Linked DNA regions of Homo sapiens. The main gene of each other region encodes a partner of the protein of the gene in region 2 in a complex. Each region holds a gene or a part of one and is shown on either strand. Other genes may lie near its edges. The genes, in order: PRPF3 and USP39.

The links.
Region 1: USP39 (region 2) and PRPF3 share a complex: the UniProt entries of both Homo sapiens proteins name them as parts of the U4/U6-U5 tri-snRNP complex.

Annotation. Positions count from the first base shown.
Region 1 is NC_000001.11:150,331,332-150,335,151, forward strand, and holds part of PRPF3 (U4/U6 small nuclear ribonucleoprotein Prp3), read left to right. Parts: intron 1-1,352; coding exon 1,353-1,436; intron 1,437-1,647; coding exon 1,648-1,868; intron 1,869-3,603; coding exon 3,604-3,820. UniProt on the Homo sapiens protein: Plays a role in pre-mRNA splicing as component of the U4/U6-U5 tri-snRNP complex that is involved in spliceosome assembly, and as component of the precatalytic spliceosome (spliceosome B complex).
Region 2 is NC_000002.12:85,622,642-85,626,461, reverse strand, and holds part of USP39 (ubiquitin carboxyl-terminal hydrolase 39), read right to left. Parts: intron 2,837-3,820; coding exon of another isoform or gene 2,817-2,836; coding exon 2,680-2,816; intron 924-2,679; coding exon 771-923; intron 1-770.

The DNA.
Region 1 (3,820 bases), on a different chromosome or scaffold from region 2:
CAGCCCTGTAATTTTTAATTTTTTTATTTTCTTTCTTTCTTTACTTATTTAGAGATGGAGTCTCCCCCTGTTGTCCAGGCTGGAGTGCAGTGGCATGATCTTGGCTCACTGTAACCTCCACCTTCTGGATTCAAGCGCTTCTCCTGCCTCAGCCTCCTGAGTAGCTGGCATTACAGGCGCCCACCACCACACCCGGCTAATTTTTGTATTTTTACTAGAGACGGTGTTTCACCATGTTAGCCAGGCTGGTCTTCAGCTCCTGACCTCAAGTGATTCGCCCACCTCAGCCTCTCAAAGTGCTGGGATTACAGGCGTGAGCCACCATGCCTGACCCTTCCGTAATTTTTGAATTTTGAATATATCACCTATTCAAGAAAAAATGTTAAAGACAAATGTTTAAAAATATCTTGAAGCAGTTTAAGAACAGGTCTGTTTTGCAAAATGTAAGAGGAGTTGTTTGGCCATACCCTCAAAGCTTATCATTCTGAACTTCTTTAGGACAGAAGGGGTTTATAGAGACTAGGGAGCAGGTCTTTGCACCATCGTCTCTTGTTTCCCAAACTAGTAGTTCAAGTACTAATATCATGATTTTTTAAAAAAAATTAAGTATAGGCTGGGTGCGGTGGCTCACACCTGTAATCCCAGCACTTTGAGAGGCCGAGGTGGGCGGATCACGAGGTCAGGAGATCGAGACCATCCTGGCTAACAGGGTGAAACCCCATCTCTACTAAAAATACAAAAAATTAGCCGGGCGTGGTGGTGGGCGCCTATAGTCCCAGCTACTCGGGATGCTGAGGCAGGAGAATGGCATGAACCCGGGAGGCAGAGCTTGCAGTGAGCCAAGATCGCACCACTGCACTCCAGCCTGAGTGACAGAGCGAGACTCCATCTCAAAAAAAAAAAAGAAAATTAAGTATAATATTTTGTGTAGGTTCTGTTAGGTTTGCATGCATTATTTAAGTGGTTAACACTAGACCTGTAAGGTAGGTACTGTTTTCTTCCCCCTTCTAGACACTTAGGAGGTTTAGAGACTAAGTTCCTTATCCAAGATAACAAAGGCATTAAGTGGCAGAGTTAAGATTCAAACTCAGGTTTCTCTGACTCCAGAGTCTCAATCATCACACTATATTACTACCTAATATGCTAATCTTGCTTTAGGAACATGGGTTGAAAAATTCCAGTGCTCACTTATCTTGACTAAATTTTTTGCACTGTGGTGCAGGCAGAATGTGGTATAGTCATTCAAAACATTTTAAGTGTCTAGACCTGAGAGCCTTGTGGGTTTAAAAACCTGAATGGGAGAAGTAAGAAGGAGAAATTAACAGTTTTTCAATTTTTTTCCTGGAGAGCAGATCAAACAGATGATGGAGGCAGCAACACGACAAATCGAGGAGAGGAAAAAACAGCTGAGCTTCATTAGCCCCCCTACACCTCAGGTATTGTGTCTAGATTACTCTGAACAGAATAATCTTTGGCACAGAATTTCTTGCCATCCACTCAAAATGAGAGACTAGAAGAGGTGACTACATGTTTCACTTCATAATCATCTGCTACAGTCTACCATGATGTGTGTGTATATCTGTGTGTATGTATGTGTGTTTGTCTGCCTGTCTTAATTCCTCTGATTTCTTTTTCTCTATCTCACAGCCAAAGACTCCTTCTTCCTCCCAACCAGAACGACTTCCTATTGGCAACACTATTCAGCCCTCCCAGGCTGCCACTTTCATGAATGATGCCATTGAGAAGGCAAGGAAAGCAGCTGAACTGCAAGCTCGAATCCAAGCCCAGCTGGCACTGAAGCCAGGACTCATCGGCAATGCCAACATGGTGGGCCTGGCTAATCTCCATGCCATGGGCATTGCTCCCCCGTGAGTGTCTATTTCATGGAATACCTTTTCATTTCTGAAGTTTGAGAAGCAATAAATACCTTTGAATGTTACTGATCTGGCTGGGCGCAGTGCCTCAGGCCTGTAATCGTAGCACTTTGGGAGGCTGAGGTAGGTGGATCACCTGAGGTCAGGAGTCAGGAGTTCGAGACCAGCCTGGCCAATATGGTGAAAACCCATCTCTACTAAAAATACAAAAATTAGCCAGGCGTGGTGGTGCATGCCTGTAATCCCAGCTACTCGGGAGGCTGAGGCAGGAGAATCGCTTGAACACAGGAGGCAGAGGTTGCAGTGAGCTGAGATCGTGCCACTGCGTGGGTGACAGAGGGAGACTCCGGCTCAAAGAAAACAACAAACAAAATATTACTGATCCTCTTTTTCCACAGAACCTAGATCATTTCTCACAGTTTCATATTTCTTAGGTGTGATTGATTAACCAGTTGAATTTTTTCTCGTCTTCCCTGTTGGAGGGTTTATTATCTTCTTATGATTTATATAACTGAGATTAAGGTTATTCATCTAATGTTGGAGCTAGGAGTATAGCCAGGTTTCCTTCCTGGTTTCAAACTCAGATTTATCCATTAAACCACATTGTGTGAGACTAGATCTGAGGTTCCTCTGCAACTGGTCAAAGATGTTACATTTTTTTTAGCATCTACAGTTGGTCTGGCATCCCATGAGTGACATAAGAATTCAGGGATAAGGAAAGATAGGATTATAAATTCATATAATTTATAAACTCATTTCATTTGGTTGTCCTGTATACTGAAATATCCACTTTGATATTTTTAATCAAGATACTATTGGCAGGGCGCGGTGGCTCACACCTGTAATCCCAGCACTTTGGGAGGCCGAGACTGGCAGATTGCTTGAGCTCAGGAGTTCAAGACCAGCCTAGGCAACATGGCAAAACCCCATCTCTCTAAAATATACAAAAATTAGCCAGGCATGGTAGAGCATGCGTGTAGTTCCAGCTACTTAGGAGGCTGAGGTGGGAGAATTTCTTTGGGCCTGGGAGGTTGAGGTTGCAATGAGCTGTGATTGTGCCACTGTACTTTAGCCTGGGCAGCAGAGTGAGACCATGTCTCAAAAAAAAAGATGGTATTGCTCACTGATGAGATTGTTCCCTAGAATTATTTTATTGTCCTTTTTGTTGTTGTTGTTGTTGAGAGGGAGTCTCACTCTGTCACCCAGGCTGGAGTGCAGTGATCTCGGCTCCCTGCAACCTCTGCCTCCCAGGTTCAGTAGCTGGGACTACAAGTGCCCGTCTAAATTTTGTATTTTTTGTAGAGATGGGGTTTCACTGTGTTGCCAAGGCTGGTCTTGAACTCCTGGGCTCAAGCCATCCACCCGCCTCAGCCTCCCAAAGTGCTGGGATTACAGTGTGAGCCACCACACCCGTCCATCCAAATAACTCTTATAGAGAAGGCACTGCAGCCTCAACTTCCTGGGCTCAAGTGATCCTCCTCAACCTCCTGAGTAGGTGGGACCACAGGTATATGCCACCGCACCCAGCTAATTTTAAATTTTTTGTTGAGATGCAGTCTCCTTGTGTTGGCCAGACTGGTCTTTAACTCCTGGGCTCAAGTGATCCCTCTGCCTTGGCCTCCCAAAATGCTGTGGTTCCAGGCTTGAGCCACCACGCCTGGCTTTATTTTGTTTTTTGCTTGCCTTAATGTTCCATACAGGATTTATTTCTTTGCGGGCTATTTTTCAGGAAGGTGGAGTTAAAAGACCAAACGAAACCTACACCACTGATCCTGGATGAGCAAGGGCGCACTGTAGATGCAACAGGCAAGGAGATTGAGCTGACACACCGCATGCCTACTCTGAAAGCCAATATTCGTGCTGTGAAGAGGGAACAATTCAAGCAACAACTAAAGGAAAAGCCATCAGAAGACATGGAATCCAATACCTTTTTTGACCCCCGAGTC
Region 2 (3,820 bases):
CCTGTTGCAGAACAATTACTCAAGTAGAGTCCTTAGCAAGACTTGGTGTCTGAGGATCATCTGACTATACTCTACAAGAAGGCAGTAATTTCTTTTTTTGAGACGGAGGAGTTTCGCTCTTCTTGCCCAGGCTGGAGTGCAGTGACGTGATCTCAGCTCACTGCAACCTCCGCCTCCTGGGTTCAAGTGATTCTCCTGCCTCAGCCTCCCGAATAGCTGAGATTACAGGCATGCACCACCAAGCCCGGCTAATTTTGTATTTTTAGTAGAGATGGGGTTTCTCCATGTTGGCCAAGCTAGTCTCGAACTCCTGACCTCAGGTGATCCTCCCGCCTTGGCCTCCCAAAGTGCTGGGATTACAGGTATGAGCCACTGCGCCTGGCCGAAGGCAGTAATTTCTTGGCCAGTACACATACTATTTCCTGTCCCTCTCTTTTTTTTTTCTTGAAACAGAGTCTCACTGTTCCCCAGGCTGGAGTGCAGTGGCGCGATCTCGGGTCACTATAACCTCTGCCTCCCGGATTCAAGCGATTCTCCCACCTCAGCCTGCCAAATAGCTGGGACTACAGGCTTCCACCACCATATCTAGCTAATTTTTGTATTTTTAGTAGAGACAGGGTTTCTCCATGTTGGCCAGGCTGGCTCAAACTCTTGACCTCAGGCAATCCGCCTGCCTTGGCCTCCCAAAGTGCTGGGATTACAGGGGTGAGCCACTGTGCTCAGCCTTCTGGGTGTCCTTCTCTTCCTCAATGTTCCCGTCTTGATCTTACCTGAAGGACAGCGTTGGCATAATCATTGGCCTTTATGTTATTCAGTCCCACAATACCCGGCAGGTAAGTGGTACCATCATATGCCCGGGACAATTTGGCTTGCTTGTCCAAGTTTGCAATTTGCTGCTTTGTGAAAGTGGGCTTCAACACATACTGCAAAGCAAAAGAAAATGCTAAGTTGTTTAAGAGCTGAGTTCACAAGAAATGTCTGTAACAGTAATTTCTACAAAAACAAAAAACACTTGGCCATGAACATCCCACCACACACAGAAAAATAGTCCGAACCAGTAGGTGTAAAGATTGAAGTAACACGGAGTAGATCCTCTCCCATGGCTAATCTACAAGGGGATCTCTGTGTCTATCCCAAAATCACTGAATCCCAGGTCTTTTCGCCGACCTCAGGTCTGGTCAACTCATGAAAACTGACTGCCAGAAACCATACAATACTCAAGTTCCTAAAGGCAGTCTAAGTCTCAGATAGAACCTCCTGGGAGCAGCACATGGACCTAGCTTTGGAGCAGGAGAGTTTCCTCCACTCTGGGTGGGAATGAGGATCTCCATGAGTCCCTGGTACTGGAAGAGCAGGATCAGACTCTTCCCAGGCACAGAGTTACCACAGTCATTATGTCACAGACTGGACAGAGATCATCGCAAACTCACTTTGAAACACTGAATTTAGCCCAGTTTTTCCCTCTATAAATACTGACCATAACTTTTTTTTTTTTTTTTAGATGGAGTTTTGCTCTTGTTGCCTAGACTAGAGTGCCATGGCATGATCTTGGCTCACTGCAACCTCCCCCTCCCAGATTCAAGCAACTCTCCTGCCTCAGCCTCCCAAGTAGCTGGGATTACAGGCATGTGCCATCATGCCCGGCTAATTTTGTATTTCTAGTAGAAACGGGGTCTCATCATGTTGGTCAGGCTGGTCTCAAACTCCTGACCTCAAATGACCCACCTGCCTCGGCCTCCCAAAGTGCTGGGATTACAGGTGTGGGCCTCCCCACCAAGCCTGTCCATAACTATTTTAATCTCAACTATTAATAATAGGCTTATACAACTTTTACAAGTAGAAAAAGCAGTATTTCAAAGACTAAATACCACGTTTTCCTTAAAAATAAACAGAGCATGAACAACTTAGGCAATGCAGTGAGACTCCATCTCTACAAAAAATTTTAAAAATGTATCTGGGCATGATGGTAACGCCTACAGTCCTAGCTACTTGGGAAGCTGAAGTAAAAGTATCACTTGAACCCATGAGGTCGAGGCTGCAGTGAGCTGTGATGGCACCACTGCACTCCAGCCTGAGCGACAAAGTGAGACCCTGTCTCAAAAAAAAAACCAAAAACAAGAACAGAGCACATGGCACCATGAATACACCCCACGTGCTGAAAAGGAAAATAATAATCAAAAGCCCAACACTAATCAAACCCAAGAGGACTTTCCATGCTCAGTACAATGAGTGTCTCTTGGCACAGGTCACAAACTAGAGCCCACAGATAAGATATCTGTGGCTGGATGCTCTGGCCACGGCGTATGTTAAAAGCAGCCAGGAGCCGGTGTGCAGCTTGGTAAATACTGTCCTACACCAGGACCAATTCATATCCCTACTTCACAGTGTAGAAGAATAATTTCACAAAAACACTTTAAACCCCATCAGAATACACCCATATTTCTTCAGTCCTAGCCCTCAATGTTACAAGTAGAAATGACAGTTAAGTTACAGACTACAGGCTGCAATTATGAATTCTGACCTTACTCAGTTTCCCCAGTTCTTCCCAAAAGAGAAAGCAGCCTCTCGATGCCTAAAGGGACTGAGATTCTTCCCTGTCCTCAGGTGGGGCAGTCCCCTGGGAGCCCTGGGATGGCTCATTAAAGAATGGACCCCAAACCAACCCTCTTAGACACACACCGTGATATCCTCCAATGAGGAATCGATGATCTCATAGTTGTCTGGAAGGCAGTAAAACTTGAGGGTGTGGAGGTTGAGGAAAACATGGTGGCTAAACTGGACACTGTGAATGTAGGCGTGAGACTTCAAACCCCGGCCTGTAGGGAAGGGTGAAAAGCTGTAATAGAAGGGCAGATACTAGAACACACAGATCAGGTTTGCTTTTCCTTTCATTATTTTCTACCGGAACATGTTAATATCCGCAAAAAACAAATATTATGCCATTCATAAAATGAATCCTCCACATGAAGTTCTCTCATAAAAAAATTAGCAAGAAAGACTAGCACATTAGTTACTTCATTCTCTAAATGGCCTAAGACATTGATTAGGGAAACAAATTTCACTATTTTTTAATATATATGTAAAATATATATAACCTATATATATATCTATATATAATACATATAACTATATATTCATACATAGTTTCCTATATACATGAAACTAGAAATATCTATGCATATATGTGTGCATAAATACACATAAACATAAATACATACATATCCTATGACAGTCCATCATCACTCAGTCCTGGATTTCCAAATGCCCATATTCAGGACAATGCTTTATCTATGTAACTTTTTTCATGTTGCTACTCCTTTCTAGAATCTCTCTCCCTTAACCATTCAAATTCTATGTCCTGCCAATTCAAGTCCCACCTCAGCTCTTCCATGAACTCAACATAAACACTCCAGCTAACATTGATTTTTGCACATTCAACTCCTATTGCACTTATTTTTACTCCGTGCCACAGTCCAGCAGTAATCTTTATGATCTAACAGAACTCACTGGTTGTTTTACATGTCAACCTTGACTCCTTATAAGCTCCTTACGAGAGCAAAGAATACAGTTTTTATCTCTTTTTTTGAGACAGGGTCTTGCTATGTTAGCCAGGTGGGTCTTGAACTCTTGACTTTAAACAATCCTCCTCCTCGGCCTCCCAAAATGCTAGGATTAGGTGTGTAAACCACTGTGCCCAGCTGTTTTTACCTCATTTGAATCCTCCACTATACTATGTACATGGCATCTGCTTGGTGTGAATGAGTTGAAATGATAAATTTTCAGAAAAAAATGGAATAAAAAAAGTCCTTTGAGCTAAAGA